3 separate regions of the Homo sapiens genome follow, and all the other regions are linked to region 2. Evidence: fine-mapped expression QTL. A gene starts in region 2. Each other region holds a variant in brackets. All regions are shown on one strand. Distances are between the middles of the regions.

Evidence for each region. PIP is the estimated chance that this variant, and not a neighbour inherited with it, causes the effect.
Region 1: its variant is the best candidate, but not a certain one, in a credible set for the expression of KNDC1 in whole blood (INTERVAL, PIP 0.67).
Region 3: its variant is the best candidate, but not a certain one, in a credible set for the expression of KNDC1 in whole blood (TOPMed, PIP 0.77).

Annotation. Positions count from the first base shown.
Region 1 is chr10:133,217,762-133,225,933 of GRCh38, reverse strand. KNDC1 (kinase non-catalytic C-lobe domain containing 1) reads right to left here. Exons shown (of 30, transcript NM_152643.8): 27 at 6,981-7,103; 28 at 6,844-6,903; 29 at 5,822-5,979; 30 at 1-1,275. The coding sequence ends at 1,044. It overlaps LOC105378573 (a long non-coding RNA gene), which reads left to right and starts at 7,097. Exons shown (of 5, transcript XR_007062351.1): 1 at 7,097-7,251. RefSeq lists an enhancer at 216-839. The variant G/TG (reference allele first, on the strand shown) is at 3,652.
Region 2 is chr10:133,156,067-133,164,238 of GRCh38, reverse strand. It overlaps KNDC1 (kinase non-catalytic C-lobe domain containing 1), which reads right to left and starts at 4,020. Exons shown (of 30, transcript NM_152643.8): 1 at 3,670-4,020. The coding sequence starts at 3,771. RefSeq lists enhancers at 2,469-3,059, 3,060-3,649.
Region 3 is chr10:133,185,188-133,193,359 of GRCh38, reverse strand. KNDC1 (kinase non-catalytic C-lobe domain containing 1) reads right to left here. Exons shown (of 30, transcript NM_152643.8): 6 at 6,686-7,386; 7 at 4,707-4,821; 8 at 3,691-3,762; 9 at 3,547-3,608. Among named protein-coding and RNA genes, the nearest start is that of KNDC1, 29 kb to the right of the region's middle. The variant G/A (reference allele first, on the strand shown) is at 3,313.

The DNA of each region.
Region 1 (8,172 bases), 62 kb before region 2:
CCAGCTGCAGAGGCCAATGTGGAGCTGACTGCGCGGGACTCCCATGGCCCTGGCCAAGGGGCTCCACACCAGCTGCCTGGGGTCCAAGAACCTGAGCAAGGGCAAGGGGCCGTGGAGGCAGCGCACTTCCTGTCTCTGGCGAAGCGTGAGTGTGTGGCGAGCTGTGGAGGCAGGGCTGCGGGCGCACATGCATGGCTGCTGGAGGCGGTGGGCAGTGGCGGTCCCTGGGGCATGAGATGGGTGGGGGCACTCTCAGGGACCCCCGCCACAGAGCCTCTGTCTTGGAGCTGCTCTGAGTGTCCTTTCCAGGAAGCAGGGCCTTTGCCCGGGCATGACCACCTCACCAAGGGCTGTTCTAAGCTGGGGGGCCCTGGGCCCTGGGGGAGCAGGCCCAGCCCAAGGTGCCTGCTCCAGCAGCAGGCCTTGGGCACCTGGGGGTCTGGGCTGGGGAGGAGGGGCACTGGGCAGGGAAGGGGAGAGCGGTTCTGGGTCTGGGTTGTGGGGGGTGAACCCAGGCAGGGTCTCGGACCGGAGGTCTCGGAGTCCCTGGGAGCTGCAGTTGGCCACTCAGAGGTCAGCTTTGGCCCTTCGTTGCTCAGCCAACCCAGGCTGGCTCAGAAACCTGCTCAGGGAGGAGCTACTCTGAAGTTTGTTGAGTTGGCGGTGGAGGCTGTTGCTGTTTTGTGGGGGAGTCACTGAGAGCTGGGTAAGAGCCACTTATCTGTGTGTGAGAGGCGCAGACAGGCACAAAACTCCTGGGAAGCTGTCTTTCATTTTCATTTTTAAATTTAACTTTTTAATTCTAGCAGAAACACGCAAACCTCCAAGACTCTTGTGCCCGTCCTGGCTCCGTCTGCTGGGAGGAGACCAGCTCTGCCTGTCCCCATGGGGTCCCCTGAGCCTCCACCTCCTGGTCCAGCTCCCCAGGGTTCGGGGGCGGAGGGGCCTTGATAACGGCCGGGCCTGAGACGCGGCTCCCACCTCCCAGCCCGCCCCCCACAGTCGGATTCGGATCTGGAATTCCACACCAGGCCCGAGCTCGGCTACTGGAATGTAGCCTTCATCCTCCGTAGCTTGTCCTGAATCTTCCGTGAGTGCTTCTCGCTGGAGACCTGGTGGAAGTTGGCCCTGCTATCTGCGGCGAGTGTGGAAATGTCGGCACCGCTGAAGCGGGCAATCCTCTGCTTGAGGTACGACTGGAGCTTGGGGTCGGGGCTGAAGGTGTAAGGGTTCTCCTGGAACGCGTGCACCTGGCTCACCACCTTTGCGATGTTCCTTCCGTTGAGGAAAGAAGAGACGTTAGTTTGCACAGGGCAGGGGCGCGGCTTCCGTGGGGAGGGAGTCCCCCCGCGTTCTTAGGAATCATTTGGACTAAATCTTTTCACCGTGTAAATTCTGAAGGGTGGGTTGTCTGTATTTATTGGCGAGGTGGAAAGGTCACTACTCAGACCTTTCCGTCTGTCTGACTGTCCATCCATCCACATTTCAGTCCACACACGCTTATGGAAACCCTGCAGGCTCAGGCTCGTCCCTGCTGAGCGTCCCAAGAAGAGTCAAGCCCAGTCTGCCGCAGGGGCTGCAGCTGAGAGGACGAGGCAGGCAAGGGACTCTCTGCTGCCGTGCAGAGCGTTCACATTCACACCTGGGAATCGCCACGGCCGGGGCCCAGGGCCGGAAGCCTGGGACAGCTGGTTGACAGTGACCAGCACACCATAGAATATAATGGAGAAAGCTGGCCAGTCACGAGCAGGAGCCCTCAGCCAGGCCTGGGGACACTGATGCCACAGACAGACGCCCTGTCCTGATTTTGGATGGAAACACCACATGCCCAGTGTGAGGGACAAAGAAAGGGGCGTCCATTACGGCAAAGAAAGGCCAAGCCTGGATGGGCTCTCACACACACACACGCCGGGAAGAGCATGCCTGGATGGGCTCTCTCACACACACACACACACGCCGGGAAGAGCATGCCTGGATGGGCTCACACACACACACACACGCCGGGAAGAGCATGCCTGGATGGGCTCACACACACGCCGGGAAGAGCATGCCTGGATGGGCTCACACACACACATGCCGGGAAGAGCATGCCTGGATGGGCTCTCACACACACACACACGCCGGGAAGAGCATGCCTGGATGGGCTCTCACACACACACACACGCCGGGAAGAGCATGCCTGGATGGGCTCTCACACACACACACACACGCCGGGAAGAGCATGCCTGGATGGGCTCTCACACACACACATGCCGGGAAGAGCATGCCTGGATGGGCTCTCACACACACACAGACACACGCCGGGAAGAGCATGCCTGGATGGGCTCTCACACACACACACACGCCGGGAAGAGCATGCCTGGATGGGCTCTCACACACACGCACACACACGCCGGGAAGAGCATGCCTGGATGGGCTCTCACACACATGCACACACACGCCGGGAAGAGCATGCCTGGATGGGCTCTCACACACACACATGCCGGGAAGAGCATGCCTGGATGGGCTCTCACACACACACATGCCGGGAAGAGCATGCCTGGATGGGCTCTCACAGACACACACACGCCGAGAAGAGCATGCCTGGATGGGCTCTCACACACACACACACACGCCGGGAACAGCATGCCTGGATGGGCTCTCACACACACACACACACACATGCCGAGAAGAGCATGCCTGGATGGGCTCTCACACACACACACACCGGGAAGAGCATGCCTGGATGGGCTCTCACACACACACACGCCGGGAAGAGCATGCCTGGATGGGCTCTCACACACACACACGCCGGGAAGAGCATGCCTGGATGGGCTCTCACACACACACACGCCGGGAAGAGCATGCCTGGATGGGCTCTCACACACACACACGCCGGGAAGAGCATGCCTGGATGGGCTCTCACACACACACACACGCCGGGAAGAGCATGCCTGGATGGGCTCTCACACACACACACACTGGGAAGAGCATGCCTGGATGGGCTCTCACACACACACACGCCGGGAAGAGCATGCCTGGATGGGCTCTCACACACACACACACTGGGAAGAGCATGGCTGGATGGGCTCTCACACACACACACACACGCCGGGAAGAGCATGCCTGGATGGGCTCTCACACACACACACACTGGGAAGAGCATGCCTGGATGGGCTCTCACGCACACGCACACACGCCGGGAAGAGCATGCCTGGATGGGCTCTCATGCACACACACGCCGGGAAGAGCATGCCTGGATGGGCTCTCACACACACACACACACGCCGGGAAGAGCATGCCTGGATGGGCTCTCACACACACACAGACACACGCCGGGAAGAGCATGCCTGGATGGGCTCTCACACACACACACACTGGGAAGAGCATGCCTGGATGGGCTCTCACACACACACACGCCGGGAAGAGCATGCCTGGATGGGCTCACACACACACACACACACCGGGAAGAGCATGCCTGGATGGGCTCTCACACACACACACACACGCCGGGAAGAGCATGCCTGGATGGGCTCTCACACACATGGGGATGCTGAGAAGGGCAGATCTGGAGGCGCTCACATACGCACGTGGACGCTGTGGAGAGCAAGTGCCACTCTTGGCTTGTTTTCTTTCCTGATTGAGCATCACCTTAAGTTTTTTTTTTTTTTT[G/TG]AGACGGAGTCTCGCTCTATCGCCCAGGCTGGAGTGCGGTGGCGCGATCTCGGCTCACTGGAAGCTCCGCCTCCCGGGTTCACGCCATTCTCCTGCCTCAGCCTCCCGAGTAGCTGGGACTACAGGCGCCCGCCACCGCGCCCGGCTAATTTTTTGTATTTTTAGTAGAGATGGGGTTTCACCATGTTGGCCAGGCTGGTCTTGAACTCCTGACCTCAAGTGATCCGCCCGCCTCGGCCTCCCAGAGTGTTAGAGTTACTGGCGTGAGCCACCGCGCCCGGCCCACCTAGGGTTACAGGCGTGAGTGGCTGCACCCAGCCCGGCCCACCTAGGGTTACAGGCGTGAGTGGCTGCACCCAGCCCGGCCTACCTAGGGTTACAGGCGTGAGTGGCTGCACCCAGCCCTGCCCACCTAGGGTTACAGGCGTGAGTGGCTGCACCCAGCCCGGCCTACCTAGGGTTACAGGCGTGAGCCGCCGCGTCTGGCCTACCTTAAGTTTTTAACTTCTCTTTTGCTGACATGGGTTTTCTGATCTCTTACGATAAGCATACATTTATGGCATATTATAATTATTGTTTTTAAATTGGTGGCTATCTAAGAAGGGGACCTTCACCTATCAGGCTGAGGATCCATGGGCACCTGGTCCGCTGAGCATTGCTCCCCAAGTGAGGCCATCTACCGTGGGGGAGGGTGGAGCCGCCGTGGCCTGGGCAGCCTCCACCTGACCGTGTGTGGACAACGGCAGGCGATGAGATGAGACGGGAGGGTGGGAGATTGTGTCTTGAGGGAGAGAGTGAGGCCGAGCTTGGGGCTGTGGGCACCTGAGGGTCATCGGACACAGGCCTGGGGCTCCAAGGAGAGGCTGGCCCCTGTGCCTTACCAGGTGGAAGAGCCTGTGTGGCCTGGGGTGTGAGCCCTGTGGGTCGTGGTGGTAGGTTTTACAGCCAGCCCCAGTCTGCGCCTCCCAGGTGGTGTGCAAGGTAGTTGGTCCCAGGTGCTGGGCAGGTGGACAGCAGGACCACAGGAACAGGCTGAGGACTGATCCTGGGTCCCACCTGGATGTCTCTAGGGAGAGGGGTTTCAAGGGGAGCAGGGACACTGTGGCACCCAGCGGTCAGGACAGGTTGCTGCCGGGCAGCCTCTGTGCTGCAGAGACCCTCAGGGTGGGGTGGAAAGTGTGCCTGGGTCCCAACACAGGGGTCCCTAGAGACCACGGGGAGTGTTTTGGGACCATGGACAGCAGAAGTGCAGGAAATGCTCCAGATTTGCAGAGAAGGAGGTGGCTGGAGGTTATCTTGGGTAGAGGGAGGTCTGAGGCTGTGAGTGCCAAGTGAGGGGCAAGGTACCCAGGCCTCTGAAAAGCAAGGACAGGAGGAGAGGTGCCACCTGAGCGTGCCCCACCTGGGCATGCGCCCATCTGAGCCCCTCCTCTGCTGGATGCGCGGCCACCTGAGCCCCTCCTGACCTGGGCGCGCGCCCGCCTGAGCCCCTCGTCTCCTGGGCGCGCGGCCGCCTGAGCCCCTCCTCACCTGGGCGCGCGGCCGCCTGAGCCCCTCCTCTCCTGGGCGCGCGCCCGCCTGAGCCCCTCCTCACCTGGGCGCGCGGCCGCCTGAGCCCCTCCTCTCCTGGGCGCGCGCCCGCCTGAGCCCCTCCTCACCTGGGCGCGTGGCCGCCTGAGCCCCTCCTCTCCTGGGCGCGCGCCCGCCTGAGCCCCTCCTCACCTGGGCGCGCGCCCGCCTGAGCCCCTCCTCACCTGGGCGCGCGGCCGCCTGAGCCCCTCCTCACCTGGGCGCGCGGCCGCCTGAGCCCCTCCTCACCTGGGCGCGCGGCCGCCTGAGCCCCTCCTCTCCTGGGCGCGCGCCCGCCTGAGCACCTCCTCACCTGGGCGCGCGGCCGCCTGAGCCCCTCCTCACCTGGGCGCGCGCCCGCCTGAGCCCCTCCTCTCCTGGGCGCGCGCCCGCCTGAGCCCCTCCTCACCTGGGCGCGCGGCCGCCTGAGCCCCTCCTCTCCTGGGCGCGCGCCCGCCTGAGCCCCTCCTCACCTGGGCGCGCGGCCGCCTGAGCCCCTCCTCTCCTGGGCGCGCGGCCGCCTGAGCCCCTCCTCTCCTGGGCGCGCGCCCGCCTGAGCCCCTCCTCTCCTGGGCGCGCGGCCGCCTGAGCCCCTCCTCACCTGAGCTTGCTCCACCTGTGGGCCCCGTTGGTCATGGTGAAGCCGCCTGTCTCCAGCTGCTGGATGTGCATGGCCAGGAGGTGGGCCGAGGGCAGGGTGGGCTGCGCCCGGAAGCGCCGCCCTTCCATCAGACACAGGCTGTCGCTCTTCAGGAAGACCTGGTGGTCCAGCCGGGGCGTGGGCCGGGGAGAGACAGGGCGTGGTCAGTGCAGGAGCCTCAGCCGGGGCCAGCGCAGCCCAACCAGTCCCAGCGGGTCCTGCGTTCTCCACGCACGGGGTCTACCCGGCTCTCTGAATTAGCTTCCAGTCCCGAATGTTCCTGGATGGTTGGACTTGGCTCACACCTGCGGGGTCTTAAGCTTTCACGGCCCTGACAGCCGCTGGGAGGTTTTGTGCCTCCTGCTGCTGAAATGGTGAGTCCCTTTCCTTGCTCTCTGCTGGACTCCAGGAAGTGCCAGGTAACCCAGCTTCCCTAAATGAGACCCCGGCTGACCAGAGCAGGGCCCCGTGTCTGCGTGTCCAGCAAAGACATGCAGGAGCCGTCCCACCCGTGGACAGCTGTGGCTGGGGCTTGAGGCCGAGCTCTGAGACCCAAGACGGGGACAGGCTGTGGCTGCTCTGGGACTCGTCTGAGTCATGTTTGGGGATGGCTGGTCACTTCCAGCAGCAATTCCTTGTTCATCATCTCATGAGGCCACCCCTGCCGTCCTGGAGGAGGTCCAGGTCGGTCAAGCTCAGGCCCCAGCCACAGACCTCAGTGCTGTCCTCTGGGCACCTGTGCTCTGTGTGAGGAACTCAGACCAGCAAGGCCCCGGGACCGAGCAGGTGGGACACCTCTGCCCAGGTGGCAACAGAGGCCCTGCCGGGAGATGACTCCAAGGCCTCCGTGAGGCCACCCTGGCTGGGCCACCTGCACACACTCTGTGGTGCCTGCGTCTGGGTGCGGCAGGCTCTGCACAGCAGTTCGTTTAGGAGAGGGCCTCGGGGGACCAAAGCCGCCCGGCCACGTAAAGTGCTGGTACCTCCACGGCTTTCAGCTCCTCCATGACCTCTGCTATCTTTGCAGGCAGAATTCTCCAGGCCTGAAATGAAAGCACAGGTGAGCCTCCTGCGGCCGTGCGGGTACCCACCCCCGCCTTGGGGCCCGAGGGGGACGCACAGGGGACTGCCTCACGGCCAGGTGCTCCAGCCCGCTCAGGATCTGCATGGCTGTCGCGAAGTTTCTCTGCTCATAGCAAGATTTTGCAATCAGCAAAAATTTGGACAGCAAGTTCACCTGCAGCTGCAATAAGAAAATGACACATTCAGCGTCTTCTGGTTTAAGATGAACAAAGGGAATATTTGAGAACCTGTTAAAATCACCCAGCTCCAAGACACAAGAGCGTGTGCTGCATCACGTGTGTGGAAAGGAAGCGGCTGTGTGGACGCAGGTGAGCGGTGGCCGTGGAGGGGCTGGGCTGGCGGGACGGGGTGGGCATGACTTGAAATAAAACAAAATAAAAGCAAAGCCTGATACGCGGAAAGACTTGAAAAGAAGTCCACCCTCACTTCTCAAAAGCAAGATTGTGCCTGGATGCACCTCCCCAGGCAGCTTCAGGACTGGGAAAGGCGACCCCACCCAGGGAGAGGCCGCTGTCGTGTCCACAGGCAGATGGGGAGCCACAGGCAGCTCCGTGCCCACCCCCCAACCCGCTGCGCCAAGCCCGTGGCAGGAGTGTTTGGGTGCAGTCCGGGGTGGGTGCCTGAGTGCCGCCCCCTCCTCCGGGGCTCTGTGGCTGGCGGTGACGACCTTGCTGGCCTTGGTTGGAACACCCCATGGGTGGTGAATGCCTCACCCAGCAGGATTCCTATTCTGAGCAGTCCCAAAGGGCTGCGTTCCTGGATCCACTTCCAGGGCTTCAGGAAGATTCTGGAGAACTCAGCTGACCCCTCCTGTTGTAGCTGCCTGTCCCTGAGGAATCACCTTGGCCTGGGCCATCCTTTGGTGGAAACCAAGGCTGCAGAGTCCAGCTGGACGCCATGCCCCGGATCGACTCTTTTTTTTTTTTTTTTTGAGATGGAGTCTTGCTCTGTGGCCCAGGCTGGAGTGCAGTGGCGCGATCTCGGCTCGGTGCAGCCTCCACCTCCCGGGTTCAAGTGATTCTCCTGCCTCAGCCTCTCAAAGTGCTGGGATTACAGGCGTGATAATTTTTGTATTTTTAGTGGAGACAGGGTTTCCCCATGTTGGTCAGGCTGGTCTCGAACTCCTGACCTCGTGATCTGCCCGCCTTGGACTCCCAAAGTGCTGGGATTACAGATGTGATAATTTTTGTATTTTTAGTGGAGATGAGGTTTCACCATATTGGCCAGGC
Region 2 (8,172 bases):
CCTGGGTGAGCCATGGGGTAGGTCTGAGAGCAGGGACCACCTAAGACCTGTTCCTTGCAGGACAGGAAAGACTGGTCCCCACTTTGCAATTGTGTGGCCACGAACTCCACCCCCAACCCAGGTGGGAGGAGGGATTCGGGAAGGCAGGTGGACATGAACTCCACCCCCATCCCAGGTGGGAGGAGGGATTTGGGAAGGCAGGTGGACATGAACTCCACCCCCATCCCACGTGGGAGGAGGGATTTGGGAAGGCAGGTGGCCACGAACTCCACCCCCATCCCAGGTGGGAGGAGGGATTTGGGAAGGCAGGTGGCCACGAACTCCACCCCCATCCCAGGTGGGAGGAGGGATTTGGGAAGGCAGGTGGACATGAACCCCCGGGACTGGGCTGCTCTCCAGGGCAGCAGCACATCAGCCAGTCCCTGGGTCTCAGAGGGCAGGGCACGCTTCCCACCGAGGACCCTTATCTCATGGCAGGTCCCCATTAGGGGCCCTGTGCATTCAGAAAGCTCCCACACCCCCCGCCACACTGCCAGGCAGACTTCGAGCCAGGGTTACACAGGGACGCCTAGATCGTGTGGCGCATTTGAAATACACTGTCTTATGACCAACTGATTTTTTTCAGCCGTGGGATTCTAACAGGACTAATACAAAACTCCAATCACAGCTGGGAGCACTGGCTGCCAATCCCCAGGCCTCCTGACAGCTCTCTTCACACTGCCAGGCCCCCACCACAAAACCACCTCTGCTCCCGAGGTGCCTTCTGCTCTGAGCTCATCCTGGCACAGATGTCATATGGACCCTGCAGCGGGGACGTCCTCTTCTTTACTGGGAGCCCCCAGCTGTGTGCCCCTCCAGGGAGCAACTGCATCCTGTCCAGCCTCAGATTCTGAGCCCAGCCTGACACCGGCACACAGGAGGTTCTGGGAGGCAGTTGCTGAACTCTGGGAGGGATGATAGTGCTGCCTGCCTCTCAGGGACCCGGGACACGTCCTGCTCTGGCACCCAAACCGGTGCACCCTCTTCGTCTCATCTGAATTCCCATGGGGCAGCCAGCATTGCCCATCCATCGACTCCAGCCGCCTGGACTGTGTGCCTCTTCTGCAGCCGCTGTTCTGCCTGGATTGCACTGTTCTGCCTCAGATCCCATACCCCCATCCACAGTGACTGAAATCTCATGGGAATCCCGGGCAGGACACCTCCAGGAAGCCCTCCTTGCATCACCCCCACAGAACATCTCCCTGTCTATCGTGTACTGGTGGTTCTTTGCCTGTACTGGGATCCAACCTGGTCACTTCCTCCAGGACCTGCTGGCCCACTTGCTGATGCTCTGGTAGGTTCCAGCTGAGAGTGTTCTCACACACGCACGGCCACGTGTCTCTGGGGCCCACACCATAGTGAAGTTGCTGGGACACAGGGCACTGGTGCCTTCTACTTCACCAGCGAATGCTGGGCTGTTTTCCAAAGAGGCTGCTCCATTTGTCCTCCCACTGGCGCGAGGGAGAGCTGCTGCGCCGTCCTTGCCAGCACAAGCCGCTGTCCGCTCTTCAGTTCTTGCCAGCCTGGCGGTCTTGGGAAGGCATTCGTGGGGGTGTATTTTGCATTTTCCTGATTGCAATGAGCAAACATCTTTTCACATGTTCAGCAGCCATTTGGATTTTCTTTGGGACCATGTCAAGGGAGGGACATTCCAGGGGCTCCGGTGGGTGTCCATAGGGGTCTATTTCTTGACCCCATCATGGAGCCAGCCATTATAATTAGCTGTAGAATGAGTGAGTTCCTACATCTTATGAAGCCTGCATATGTCCTGGGCCTGGCGCCACCGTGCTTTCCCGGCAGCTGCCCTGCACCCTTGGCCTTCCGGCATTCTGGGATGATGATGCAACCTCACCGTGCCCTCACCTCACCCAGGACGGTTTTCCCATGCAAGTCAGGTGCCCCGATGGAGATTTCAGAACCTTCCAAGCCAAACACGTGTGGGAAGCAGAGTCTGAACGCCAGGGGAATTCTGAGACATGGGGTGTGTTGGGCTCAGTACTGGGCACAGGGTTGGGCCAGGGACCACCCGATGCTTTCCAGGAGTGTCTGCGAAGGGCCCACCTGAACGTTCCCACTGCACGCTGCAAACTCGGTGGGATGACAGTTCACCTGGAGGCCTTGGTGGACGTCACAGGATGGAGCCACCCACCCCAGTACTGTGCCGGCCGGGAGCTGTCCGGCCGGCCCGAGGACACTGGTGTGTGCGTGGGGGTGGGGAGCGGGAGTGGGGAGTGTGCAGAAAGACAGCCTGTGGCTCCAAGTGGGCTCGCGCCTGGCGCGGCGTGTTGTGTGCGTGGCACCGGCTGCTGCCTCCGTGTGCGGAGCGGGGAGGCCCTCAAGGCTCAGGCCTCTGATGCACGAAGGAGCTGTGGGAAGAGCTGCGTCCTCAGGGCCGCCTCCTAACAGATACCCTGGGATGTGTCCTGGGGCGTTTCTGAAGGCTGCGGGCTGCCCCTCCCTCTCGGTCAGAGCCGAGGTGATCTTGGAAGCTTTATTGCCTCCCCTGGCTGCTCCTCTCTGCAGCCTTCAACTGCACCGAATCCAGGCCATGGTGGGGGCGGGGGCATCGCCAACCCCCGCACAGCCTCAGCTGTTTCTAGGTGGCTGGGCCGAGGGCCTCCTGGGGCTGAACCTTCCCAGAAGGACGGTGCTTCCACAGCAGAAACTCCCGGTCCCTTCAGAGCCCACTCCCCTGGGGCAGCAGGTGGGGACTGCGAGGGGGTCAGGCCCGCGGCTGCTGCAGCCGGGATTCCCTGCTCCAGGCTTACTTGGCCGGCTTTAAAGAGAGGGCGCCACAACATCCCACTAATGGCTGCAGGTGACGACGCTGTCACCCGGAGACGCAGGCGCCCAGCGTCTGGGCTCTTGCCTGTTGGAGGTTTGGCAGATCTCGGATCCCTGGAGGGTGAGGGTCCCTCTGGGAGCTGCTGTATCCCCTGGGGGCCACCTCTCATGCTTCCGGGCCTGGCTTGTCCACTCCATCCCAGCCAAGCCAGAGCTGAGCTACAGGGTCAGACCCAGCCAAGGTGGCGTCTGGGCAGCCGGTGCTGTAGGGTGGGCGGTCCATGAGCAGAAGCGCCAGGGTATGCAGATGGCAGGCAGAGCCCCTCTGCACCTTGCGGGGTAGGGGGGTCTTGGGTGAAGGCCCGGAAAACCAGAGAGCAGGAAGCAGCTCTCAGTCTCGGGGGGCAGTCATCCAGCGCTCCCCCCACCCCCCGCTCCTGAACCTCAGCTCCGGGGACCTCATCCCCCAGCTCCTGAGCGGCGCCTGATTGGACTCTGCTGCTCTGCACCCCGCTGGCCTCCTGGGGCCCGGCAGGGAGTAAGCAGACCCCCCTCCGTCCTCCTTGCTGCCCCCACACTGTCCCGCCAGGGTTTCCACCAGGAGCTACCGCGCACCAACTTCTGCAGGGGCTGCCCACCCGCCGCCGTCCCGTGCGCATTCGGGGGTGCTGTCCCCTCCGGGTGAAAATCCTAACGCGGGGGCTGAGAACGGCGGTGGGAACCCCTCGGCCATGGAGGGCGCCTGGGGAGGCGGGAGCTCACAGCCCCTCCCGGGTCCTCCCCCCGGGCGCTCTCCGCGGACCCCTCGGCGGCGGAAGGGGCCCCCCAGTGGGGCCGGGGGCTCACCTCGTCCTCGGGGAGGGTGGGCAGCGGCTCGAAGTCGTAGAAGTCCAGGTCTTTGCCGTCCTCCTCGTAAAGATCCGCCGCGGCCGGGTCCATGGCCTGCATCCTGCGGCCGCGCCGCGCACCGCCCCCGGGGCCTCCGGCTGGGCTGGGCTGGGCTCGGCTACGCGCGCCCTGGCTCCATGGAGACGCGCCCGGCCCTCGCCCGCCCCCGCCCGCCCGCCGCTGCCGCAGTGTCTCCAGGGGACGCGGTCAGGGATACGGGGCGGGCCCGGGGGGCGCGGGGGGCGCGGGGTGCGCGGGGGCTGCGCGGCGCTGTCCGGACCCGGCGCCTAGGGAACGTCGCTCCTTCCTGGGGGAGGCACCGGGGGCGGAGCCAGGCGTGTGGCCTCCGCGGGGAGCCACGGGGTCTGCGCCCCACCTGGGCCCCAAGGGTCGAGGGGCGGAGCCGGCGCCCAGGAAAGCTCGGACGGGCAGACCCCCTCGCCGGCTCCCGCCGCCCCCGTCCCACCCCCGCTGCTGCCGGGCGGGGCTGCCGCAGTCCCGGGGTGGCCTCTGCAGCGGCGTTGGGCAGGGCCGGGCGGGGCCCGGGGTGGGGGGCGGGGCCCGGGGTGGGGGGCGGGGCGGTCGCTGGGCCGGGGTCTCTCCTGAGCGAGGGTCTTTCGGAGGCCCGGGGATGTTGGGGGTGGGGCAATAACGCTGCCTCATCCCCACCTGGAGGCATCGGAGAGACCCACTGGGCACCCGACCCTCCCCGGTCCTGGGGGACCCTGGGGGGTCCTGGGGCTCTTGACCTCTTCCTGCCCCAAAGGCCCCCCGGGGCTTTCTTCAGCGCCAGGGTGACCCCGGCCCACGGTAGTGCCGCGGTCAGAAGAGCCAGGATAGCCCCAAGCTCGGCCAAGAGGCAGGGAGGGTGGAGGAGAATCTCACCTTCCCCGGCCACCCCCAGAACTCCCACAGGAGAGAGGGCGGCTTCAGGGCCCGGCTGTCAGCTCCCCGTCCGTGTGGCTGGCCAGGCACACAGTAGGTACTTAATCCATGCTCCTGGCTTGAAGGAGCAGCAGGGCTTTTGACCGCAGAGTGGGAGGGTGCAGTGTGTTCAGGGACGTGAATTCCCAGCACTCTGTCCCCTGGTCGGTCACCCGGGCTGTCACTCTGGCCTGGCAGGGAGTTCAGGGGCTCAGCTCCCCGGGAGCCAGGTGGGCACTGAAGCCGGAGGCTGGGAGTGGGGCAGGTGCTGGGCAGACTCCCTGCGTCCAGCCAGGCAGCCCCACCTTATTGAAAATGCCCACCCTGGGGCCCACCCTGGTCCACCGAGTCAGCAGTCAGGTGCAGCCTCCCCCATCCTTGGGTGTTTGGAAGCTTGGGCAGCAAGCCAAGGTGGAGTGGGCTGGAGCTGGAGAGGAGGAGTCTCACAGAGGGTGGCCTCAGCCAGCTGTCCCTGAGCTCTCTCTCTGTGGGCCCCACAGGGCCTGCAGCGCCCCAGTCCCTGTCTTGGAAGGAGGCGGAAGTGGCAGGCAGACTCTGCTCCAGGAGCCTGATCCCGCTGCACCCTGGTGCTCAGACCTGGACATTGGAGCTGAGCCCCTGGGCTCCTGGGCCCTCTGCTGCAGGGCTGGGGCCGCCTCCTTTGTCAGGTCTGGATGTGCCCCTGACGCCTCTCAGCTGCCACCCAGACTTGTGCCTCCGGGGGAACGCCGGGCTGACGTGACCCCAAAGGGAAGGCACCAGGGACCCCACAAGCACAGGACTTTGTCACCGAGTGCCCAGGTCACCTCACGGGCTTGGGGTGAGGATATAGACACTGAATAGGGGGCAAAGGTAACCCCATAATTTGGGGGGCAGCCATAGGGCAAGCACTCCTGGAAAGACGTGCATGCGGTTGGTAAAATGCAGAACTCACAGGCTCCTGGAGTCGGCCGTGTCAGCTTCGGCTGTTGCGGCCTAAAACCCCTCAGCAGGCATTTCCCACACCTGGGTCACTCAGCGCTGCTGCTGCTCAGGGCTGGGCACGTGGGGAGGGGCCTCGGGCAGGGGCCGCAGGCTCTTTCTTTTACGCACCTGCTGCTTTCCTTTAAAGATTTGTGGGCTTTGGTCTCTGTTGTTCTGGGGAGTGGTGGGAACTTCCAGACGTTTTGCGAGTTGTCCCGGGCGCCCGCACACTCGCCTGCAGTGATAAAGCTTTGACCCAAGTGGAGGGTGCGATGTCGGTCCTGTGTCCTGGCACCTCAGTTATGCTGGACGAGGGCGCAGTTCCTCCAGGGTCTGGATTCATCGCCCCACGTCTTCTAGAGCTGGTGAGCAGCTTCTGGGTGCCACGCGGAAACGGCCAAGAGCCCTCCGTGAGCCACAAGGAACGGCCTCCTCATCAAGCCCTCCTGCCTCTCGGTGCCAGCCCTGTGTGCCCAGCATGTGCTGGCACAGCTTCCTCCCGAGGATGCTTGTGGTGGTGTCGGAATTCTGAGGGGCTTCCCAGCTGCACGATCAGGTCCGTGGTCCAGGGCCATGACTTGGTGGCACTTTCGTCCTCTTCCAACTCTTCCATGGCCTCTACCCATCCTCTGCCCCACCCCACTGCCCTTTCCCACCAGACGTTCCCCTCTGCTAGAGGCAACAGCCTGAACTGTGGCTCCTGGCTGGAGTGAGGAACCTGGTTCCTCCCTCCCTGCCCAGGCCCTGCCCACCCTCCCTCCTCCATGAGGGGCCCAGGGTAGGACTCCCAGATGCTTCTCCTGAGACCTTGCTCCGAGGGGGTTACCGGGCCCTTGTCACACCCGGACGCTGTCAGGATCGGCCTTGTCCTTCTCACTCGGTCTCCCACAGTCGGCGCTCAGCTGGACTGGGCTGCGTGCTGAGGCGGGTGGAGCAGGGGTCTTCAGGGCCTTGGCTCTCGTTTTCCCTAAAACAATTTTGAAAAGCTGCCAAATCACTCACACATGTTGACGTCAACATCCAGGTTTCTTAAAAAATCCAGACATGTAAATGATGGCAAATAATGTCATTTCTGGTGTGATGTAAATACTCACATTTTGAAGTAAAATTGTTAGTCACTCCTGTAAATGTATCTAGGAAGCTAAATGCCAAAATGGTTTTGATACCTACTGTCAGTCGTTTAAAGAATTCGTAAACACATTCTTCTCTAACAGTCCGAGATCTTCGTGCTGACATTTTTCCTCAGACGCATCATAGCCATCTGGTTTTTGCCCAGATTGTATCTGACGATGAATTATTTTTATGCCCGAGTTTCTGTTGGCTCCTCATCACACTTTGCAACAAATACACATGTAAATTTTAATAAATCAGATATTTAGTAAAGAAAAAAAGGAAATGTGGAAGTAAATGGCGGTGCTCCTGTTAGAGATTGGGAGCCGGCACGCGGGAACCGTGGACCACGACTGGCTTCTGCGGGGAGCTGCCCTGTGGCTCTGGCGGAAACACGGTCTCCTCACTTTGTCTCTGGGCGCTGGGCTGGCCCTGTCCTGCCAGGCTCACCCCACGGGGGAACCAATGCGGCTGGGAGCAGACGGAACCCCCGTCCCTCTGTGCGTGTGTGTATTTGTGTGTATATGTGTGCGTATGTGTGGGTATTTCTGTGTCTGTATGTGTATGTGTATTTGTGTGGATGTGTGTGTATATTTGTGTGTGTATGTGTGTATGTGTATTTGTGTGTGTATTTGTGTATGTGTGTGTATTTCTGTGTCTGTGTGTATGTGTATGTGTATTTGTGTGTATGTGTGTGTATTTGTGTGTATGTGTGTGTATTTGTGTATTTGTGTGTATTTGTGTATGTGTGTGTATTTGTGTGTGTATTCGTGTGTGTGTATTTGTGTATGTGTGTGTATTTGTGTCTATGTGTGTGTATTTGTGTGTGTGTTTATTTGTGTGTGTGTATGTGTGTGTGTATTTGTGTGTGTGTGCGTGCATTTTTCCTCAGTGTCTCTGAGATTCAACCATGTTGTTATGGGTAGTAGTAATTTATTGATTATTGTTACTGAATTGTATTAAATTACATCAATACCCCACAGTGGAGGTTCTCTTTCCAACGACGTCAATACCCCACAGTGGAGATTCTCTTTCCAACGACGTCAATACGCCACAGTGGAGGTTCTCTTTCCAATGACGTCAATACCCCACAGTGGAGGTTCTCTTTCCAATGACGTCAATACCCCACAGTGGAGGTTCTCTTTCCAACGACATCAATACCCCACAGTTGAGGTTCTCTTTCCAATTACGTCAATACCCCACAGTGGAGGTTCTCTTTCCAACGACATCAATACCCCACAGTTGAGGTTCTCTTTCCAACGACGTCAATACCCCACAGTTGAGGTTCTCTTTCCAACGACGTCAATACCCCACAGTTGAGGTTCTCTTTCCAATGATGGCAATACTCCACAGTTGAGGTTCTCTTTCCAATGACATCAATACTCCACAGTTGAGGCTCTCTTTCCAATGACGTCAATACCCCACAATTGAGGTTCTCTTTCCAACGACGTCAATACCCCACAG
Region 3 (8,172 bases), 29 kb before region 2:
AGATACAGGGTTTCGTCATCTTGGCCAGGCTGGTCTCAAACTCCTGACCTCAGGTGATCCACCTGCCTCAGCCTCCCAAAGTGTTGGGATTACAGGCCTGAGCCACTGCACCTAGCCTGTTTCCTTAATTTCTGAAGGATATTTTTGCTGGAAATAGGTTTCTGGGTTGAAAGTTCTTTCAGAACTTAAAAAAATGCTATGCACTTCCTCTACAGTTACTGATGAGAAATCTGATCATCTGAACTGTTTTCCCCCCCCATATGTGTATATATGTAAGCTGCTGTTTCTCTCTCTTTTTGTTTTTTATTTTTATTTTTATTTTTTCGGAGAGGGGAGGGTTAGTATTCAGAGGTTTGACTATGATGTGTCCTGGTGTGGATTTCTTTGCATTGATCATGTTTGGGGTTTTCTCACCTTCTGAAATCTGTAGGCTTATGTGTCTTGCCAAAATTTGGAAGTTTTCAGCCATTATTTCTTTGAGTACTTTTTATGCACCACCCTCCTTCTCTTCTCTTTCCAGGATTTTGATGACATGGATATTAGATCTTTTATTATAGTCCCACAAGCTTCTCAGGCTCTGTTCAGTTCTTTTGGTCTATTTTCTCTTTGTTGTCCAAACTGTGTAATTTCTATTGTCTCCATTTCACCAATTCTTTCCTCTGCCCTCTCTATTCTGCTATTAAGCCCATTCATTGAGTTTTTTTAAAAAATCAGCTCTAAAATTTCCATTAGCTTTTTCTTTTTCTTTTCTATTCCTTGGTTGAAACTTTGTATTTCTTTGCTGAAACTTTTTCATTTGTTTCAAGCGTGTTTGCAATTGCCCAATGACGCATTTTTATGATGGTTGCTTTAAAAATTTTAAAGTCACTTTTAAAATTTCTGTCATCTCCAGGTTGGTATCATTGGTTGCCTGTTTTCATTCAGTTTGACATCTTCCTGATTCTTGGTATCATGAGTCCTTCCCCATTGCTTGATTTTGTCAGCTCTGTCAAAGATCAGATGATTGTAGGCGTGCAGCCTTATTTCTGGGCTCTCTATTCTCTTCCATTGGTCTATGTGTTTTTGTACCAGTGCCATGCTGTTTGGGTTACTGTGGCCTTGTAGTATAGTTTGAAGTTGGGTAACGTGATGCCTCTGGCTTTGTTCTTTTCACTTAAAATTGCTTTGGCTATTTCAGCTCTTTTTTGGTTCCATATGAATTTTAGAATAGTTTCCTCTAATTCTGTGAAAAATGACATTGGTAGTTTGATAACAATAGCATTGACTCTGCGGATTGCTTTGGGCAGTGTAGCTGTTTTACCAACACTGATCCTGCCCATCTGTGAGCATGGGATGTGTTTCCACTTGCTGGTGTGGTCTCCAATTCCTTTCAGCCATGATTTCCAGTTGTCCTTGCAGGACACGCTGCAGGGAAGGAAGGTCCTGGCTCCTGCTCACTTTCTTTGAGGCCACCTGGGGCCAGGGCAGGCACTGGACACTTCTCTGCAGTCTCACAAAGATGAGTCCAGGCTCCAGGCTCGGCCCTTGCTGGGCGGGGCCGCAGTGCTCCTGTGGGGTTTGGTTGGTGCAGAGCAGGGGGTGTAAATGCATCCTGGTCCTCCCTGGTCCTCTGATTACAGACCCAGGCTTTTGTTGGGGCATTTGTTTTACTTATTTTTTTGAGACTGAGTCTCACTCTGTCAACCAGGCTGGAGTGCAGTGGTACCATCTTTGCTCACTGCAACCTCTGCCTCCTGGGTTCAAGCAATTCTCCTGCTTCAGCCTCCCAAGTAGCTGGGATTATAGGTGCACACCACCACCCCTGGCTAATTTTTGTATTTTTAGTAGAGATGAGGTTTCACCATGTTGGCGAGGGTGGTCTCAAACTCCTAACGTCAGGTGATCGACCTGCCTTGGCCTCCCAAAGTGCTGGGATTACAGGTGTGAGCCACCACACCCGGCCCTGTTGGGGTATTTATTTTTTGAGACAGGGTCTGGCTCTGTCATCCAGGCTGGAGTGTAGTAGCATGATCTTGGCTCACTGCAACCTCCTGGGTTCAAACAATCCTCCCACCTCAGCCTCCCGAGTAGCTGGGATTACAGGCATGCGCCACCACACCTGGCTGGGATTACAGGCATGTGCCACCACACCTGGCTGGGATTACAGGCACGTGCCACCACACCCGGCTAATTTTTGTATTTTTAGTAGAGATGGGGTTTCGCCATGTTGCCCAGGCTGGTCTCGAACTCCTGGACTCAAGTGATCTGCCCGCCTTGGCCTCCCAAATTGCTGGAATTACAGGCGTGAGTCACCATGCCCGGCCAGTTGGGGCTTAAACTCTTTTTTATTACTCCAAAAAGCTTCATTTTTTCTTAGTTTTCTGACTCTGTGCTTGTGCCTCAGCACTTTCCCAGCGATTTTCGTTCCTTGAAGGGGAAAGCACTAACCCTGAAGGGATCCCACAGGAACACACACAGTGCACACAGAGCCACTGCAGCCTCACGGACGCGGTTTTTGTTTGAGACAATCTCATAAGAGCTTCAGGTCTCACAGCACCAACCCCCTGAGGTCGGCCTGGGCCACCTGCAGATGACAGTGCTTTCCCAGCCTTCTTGGTGTAAAGGTGAACGATCTATTGCTGGGGTTCAGGACAGCCTCTTTTCGTTACAGGCTAGACTGCAGGAAAGCCTTCGATGGTTTGGCAAATGGTGGACCATTCCGAGTTTCTCTAGACAACATCCCCAGAAGATGAAAAAGCGCGGCTTTTAGTGTGCGCCCATTGCTTTTTCCCGGTCACCGGCTTCTTTACCTCCAAGTCTCAATATGTGAGGCAGAAGGAAAACCCAGGGCACTCACGGCTGCCTTGTTCCTTGGTCCAGAGGCCCCTCGCCGGCTGCCGTCTCCTCCCCCTGCAGGTGGCCTGGTGCTTGTTTTTTGCACAGTGTGCAGGGTGCTTACTGCAGGGTGCTTAGTGCAGGGTGCTTACTGCAGGGTGTTTAGTGCAGGGTGTTTGTTTAGTGCAGGGTGCTTAGTGCAGGGTGTTTAGTGCAGGGTGCTTACTGCAGGGTGTTTAATGCAGGGTGGTTAGCGCAGGGTGCTTATTGCAGGGTGTTTGTTTAGTGCAGGGTGCTTAGTGTAGGGTACTTAGTGCTCTTCCTCGGTGGGAGGAGCGGGAAGTACACATTTCTATCATTCCTGAGTGGAAGTTTTACCTTGATTTTGAATGTAATTTATTGAATTGTATTTAAATTTGTGTAATTTAAATTTTAAGAATGCTCATGTTTCACAGGTGCCTTATACACATCCCTGGTTGTTTAGCCCTTAGTTCTCGT[G/A]AGCCAGGAGGCGCAGCTCTAGTGCACATGGCCAGTGCCGTCCACACCAAGCCCTGTCTTGGTGCCCCGGCCAGAGCCACGGCCCTGCTGGCAGATACCGCCTGTGGCCGCCTGGCCAGGAAGGGCTGCCCTGACTCCCTCGAGTCCTGATGGGGGGCTGCTGGACAGATGGGGGACGTGGCATCCCCGAGGGCTGGGGGCAGGGCTGGGGCAGGGTGGGGAGGGCCCGGGTACCTTTTCAGTTACCAGCCTCTCCTCTGCCAGCTCGGGAGCCAGAAAGAACGAGTCATAGGAACCTAAGAGAGAAACCCGACTGAGCTTTCCTCACCCCTGGCGAGCCGGTGCTGGACTCGGCCTGAGGGGAACCCACACACTCACCGTTGGCAGGGGGTGGCTGGAAGAGCACAGCCCCGTCCTCAGCAACCAGCACGGAGTCCAGACACAGGTAGGCTGTGGCAGAGCTTGGGTCAGGGCGGGTATGCATGCTGCCCCGCACTTGGGGCTGGCTGGGGGGAAGGAGCTGCGGAGCCTCAGTCAGGCCGGGCAGCCCCCCAGCCTCCCCATTGCACGGGCACGCACCTGCCAGTGCACGCACATGGCCTGACCCCAGCCCCCGGGGTCCTCGGAGCTGCCTCCTCCCAGCCCTCCCCGAGGGTAGCGCTGCCCCAGCCGACACAGTGGCTGCAGCGGCATATCTGCGGCTGAAAGGGAGCCAAGCGGCAGGGAGAACACGGTAACTTGAAGCCCCCGTGTCACAGGCCCCGTCCCGAGTCAGGGCCCACGGGGCAGCCACGGGCTCACGGTGGACGGACACTGGAGCCGGGTGTGTCTCCGATGGCCTCTCCCCCAGCCCTTTCAGATGCTGCCCTCATCACCCCCAGGACGTTTTTACGTCTCAGATGCACCGTCCGTCTGCCCTGATGTCTGGCAGGGCTAGGCTTTGACGGGGCAGACCCGTGCAATGCTGAAGATTCCCTCCCCACTCCAAAGCCAATTGCTGCCTCCCTGGGGACAATGTCACTGTGTTGAGAATGTGTGGGCGAGGGCCATGGCAAAGTCCCCGTTCCTCTTTACGGCACAGTCACCGGTTTCAAGGCCCACCTTGCAGGCATCTGTCCCCACACCTCCCTCGGTGCTGCAACCCAGCAGGCACCCACAAGGTGCTCCAGACGGGAGCCGCCTGTTCCGTTCACCGGAGACACTGTCCTGGCTGCCCCTGGGTCCCTTGGTTCAGGTGGGGGCCAGTTACGCATGGGACGGCAGGGGTGATGGGACAGTGGGGGGGCGTGGGACGGTGTGGGGGGTGGGACGGCGGGGGTGTGGGACGGCGGTGGGGGGTGGAACAGCAGTGGGGGGTGGGGACGGCGGGGGGGATGGGATGGTGCGTGCGTCACCTGGGTGCTCAGGGCGTGTCTGCAGTGCGCGGAGGCAGGCCAGGCACAGGGCCCACAGCTCGTACTCCCGGAAGGGCCGGCCCAGCTGGGACAGGAGGTCCTGCAGGGACACCCACTGTGGGCAGGAGAGCGGCGAGGTCAGTGTGGACACCCCTTGCCAGGGCCCGCCGCCTGGAGAGGCATGTCCGGGGGACAGGCCAGGGTGAGGCCCACTCAGCCCCTGAGTAGGCGCCCCCCACACCTGATAGAAGGGCTAGGGAGGTCCCTAAGTCAACTCCAGCGTGTGGGGGCCGTGGGGAGACTGGGGCCCTTGGCCCTGTGGGTGGGAACGTCCCACGGTGCAGCCACTGCAGACGACAGTGCTGCCGTTCCTTGAAAAGCTCAACATACACCTCCCAGGTGACAGCAGTTCCACACGGCCACATTCCCCGAGGAACCGAGGGCAGGGCTCACGCATACGTGCACACCCATGTTCCCAGCAGCACGGCTCGAAATAGCCAACACGGGGAGCACCCAGGCATCCACGGACGGACGCAGGGGCAGTGTGGATGGCGCTTGGCCTCGGGACAGGGATGGGGGGTTCTCACGCAGGCTCCCTGGGGAGGAACCGTGAGGACAGTGGGCTCAGTGAAGAGACCAGACACACAGCTCTGTCCATCCCACTCCCACGAGGCCCCTGGACAGAGCTCATGGAGGGGAAGGGTGGGACGGGGTGCAGGGGCCAGGCTCATGGAGGTGGAGGGCGGGACGGGGTGCAGGGGGCGGGCTCGGGGGTTGGGGTTTCGTGTGGGCTGATGGGGACAGCTGTGCAACAGCGTGAACACACCCAATGCCGCTGAGCTGTGCTCTTGCAGAGGGTTGAAGTGGTGGCTTTTGTTCGGTGCATTTTCTCACATACACACACACCGTGACACCAGGCATGCGTTCAGCCTGGGAGGCCACTCTCCACTCCAAGGCCTCACGGACAGCTGGGACCAAAGTCCACCCTCCAACAGGTGGCTCGGCCACCCTGTGCCTCCGTGTGCCCTTCGGGAAGGTAGGCTGTTGTGCGTGGGAAGGCGTGCCGCCAGGGAGAGTGGTGGAGGGCGACGGGGCACTGCGCCCTTGTCCTTCAGATCAACGAGGCCTGGTGGCTTGAGGGCACCCCCGTCCCCGGGCCAGGCGCTGCCTGGCAGATGGACTTGCATGCAGGCCACTGACTTCAGGTGACCTTGCCCGGAGGAGCTCACGGGGACACAGCTGGGGGTGGCTCACTGAGGAGCCAAGGAGGGCAAAATGCACTTGGCCAGGCCTTGGCCCAAGCGTCTTCGGCTGGACAGAGGGGCCGACGGACCAGGCCCCCCAGAACACTGGCTCCAACAGCATCCTCCATCCCTCGTGAGGAGCAGCTGACCAGGGGCAGCACTGGGCTGGGGAGGCCCCATCCTGTGTGGAGGCCACGTCCGGGCAGCCGCACCAGATCCCAGCGTCCCCGCGGAGGCAGCGGAGGTGGCCCAGCACCGACACCACCAAGCCCCACAGATGAGCAAGCTCAACCCACAGCTTTGGTTTCTAACTTTTAAACCGTCAGAATAGGAAGATGAGGAGGGCTGTGAGCATCAGGACTGGGGACACGGAGCCCCTGAAATGACATCACGGAGCCGGGGCTGCTGGCCTTGCTTCCCGGAAGAAAATTAATCCCTCGGGACGGCCGTGCGGGGCTGTGTGAGGAGCCGGGCAGGGCTGAGGAGGCGGCTGCTTTCTGGGTCATCCAGAGGCAAACGTCTACCCGAGAGGCCACGCCTGGGTGACAGCATCCCCAGCCGCAGCCACAGCTTCCTTCAGAAACGGGGCAGCTCAATGAAAATGTCTTTAATTATGGAGCGAGGGTGAAGGTTAATTCTCTGAGTTAAACAAAGCGTTTGCATCTGTGGAGAGGCCCGGCCCCGGACTCACTGACCGCCGACCCCTCCACCCACACACAAGACCCAGGCACCCACCTGCTCCGCGGCTGCACTTTCCAGCTGCCTAGCTCCTTCTGGAATTCTCTCATCGTCCCTGGGAGTCTGGGCTTCACCGCTAGCATCTCGAGGGTCTGCAGGGGCCTCTGCTGGCCCCTGGCTGGGGTGTGAAGTCTCGGGCTGTCCTGGACTGCCGGGCACCCCAGGGCCCCTGTCCGTGCTGCGGCCTGCACAGGGAACCCGTCCCAGCTGGTGTTCCGGCTCCTGCTCCGGCCACAGCCTGCATTTGGGCTGAGCCTGGAAGCTAGAAAGGCCATTTTTCCTGTCCAGAAAGGCCTTCCTGGGGTCCGGAGAGAATAATTCCGATATGGGCAGCTGGCTTTTCCCGCGGGTCAGCGGCAGGCAGAGGGTGGCCTCGGGGCTGTCGGACAGCAGCCTAGGGAACGTCTGCACCTTCCGCAGGCGGCTTCTCCTGAGGGCGTCTCTGTCCAGCTCCCCGAGGGTGCGCTCGGCATCCAGGACGAGGCCGGCCAGCCCCTCCCGGCTGTGGCTCTCGCCATTTCTCACCGGGGTGGACAGCAGAGCCTTGGTTGGGGAGGCTCTGGGGCCCCGGCTCGTCTCAGACTCCGGGCCTTCGGGGGTCGGCAGAACCTCCGGGTCAGTGCTGGGGTCCCCGGGCGGCCTCCTGGGCCCAGCGTTTCCTGGGGCAGGTCTCTCCCGCCAGCTGCTCTCGCTGACATCTGGGCACAAGCAAGATGTGGTCACGGCTGGGTGCCCCTCCCGCCCCTCCCCTCTCCTCCCGCCCCTCCCCTCTCCTCCCACCCCTCCCCTCTCCTCCCACCCCTCCCCTCCCACCTCTCCCCTCCCCTCCCCTCTCCTCCCCTCCCACGATCACAGACCCCAACCCAGGCTCTCACAGGAGGGGGCTCCCGCCTTCCTCTCCTGCCCCACTCATCAGGTCATCCTGGCTAATTAGAGGCTGGGGCTGCCTCTCCCCCAGGCCAGGCGGGGCTTCCCTCTGGGGCTTCCTATGGGAGCCTGGACCTAATTATCTCATCCAAAGGCACGTCGTTTTCCTCGAGGATTACACAGGTGAGTCCCCACAGGAAGAACCTGGATGATGTGGCTACGGCCGTCAGCGGCCGCCTCCCACACACGGCGTTGATCTCTCTCTGCTGTGTGTGGCTCTGTTCTGCCTACTTCACACTGCACACACTGCCTACTCCACACTGCACACACTGCCTACTCTACACTGCACACACTGCCTATTCCACACTGCACACACTGCCTACTCCACACTGCACACACTGCCTACTCCACACTGTACACACTGCCTACTCCACACTGTACACACTGCCTACTCCACACTGCACACACTGCCTACTCCACACTGTACACACTGCCTACTCTACACTGCACACACTGCCTATTCCACACTGCACACACTGCCTACTCTACACTGCACACACTGCCTATTCCACACTGCACACACTGCCTACTCCACACTGCACACACTGCCTACTCCA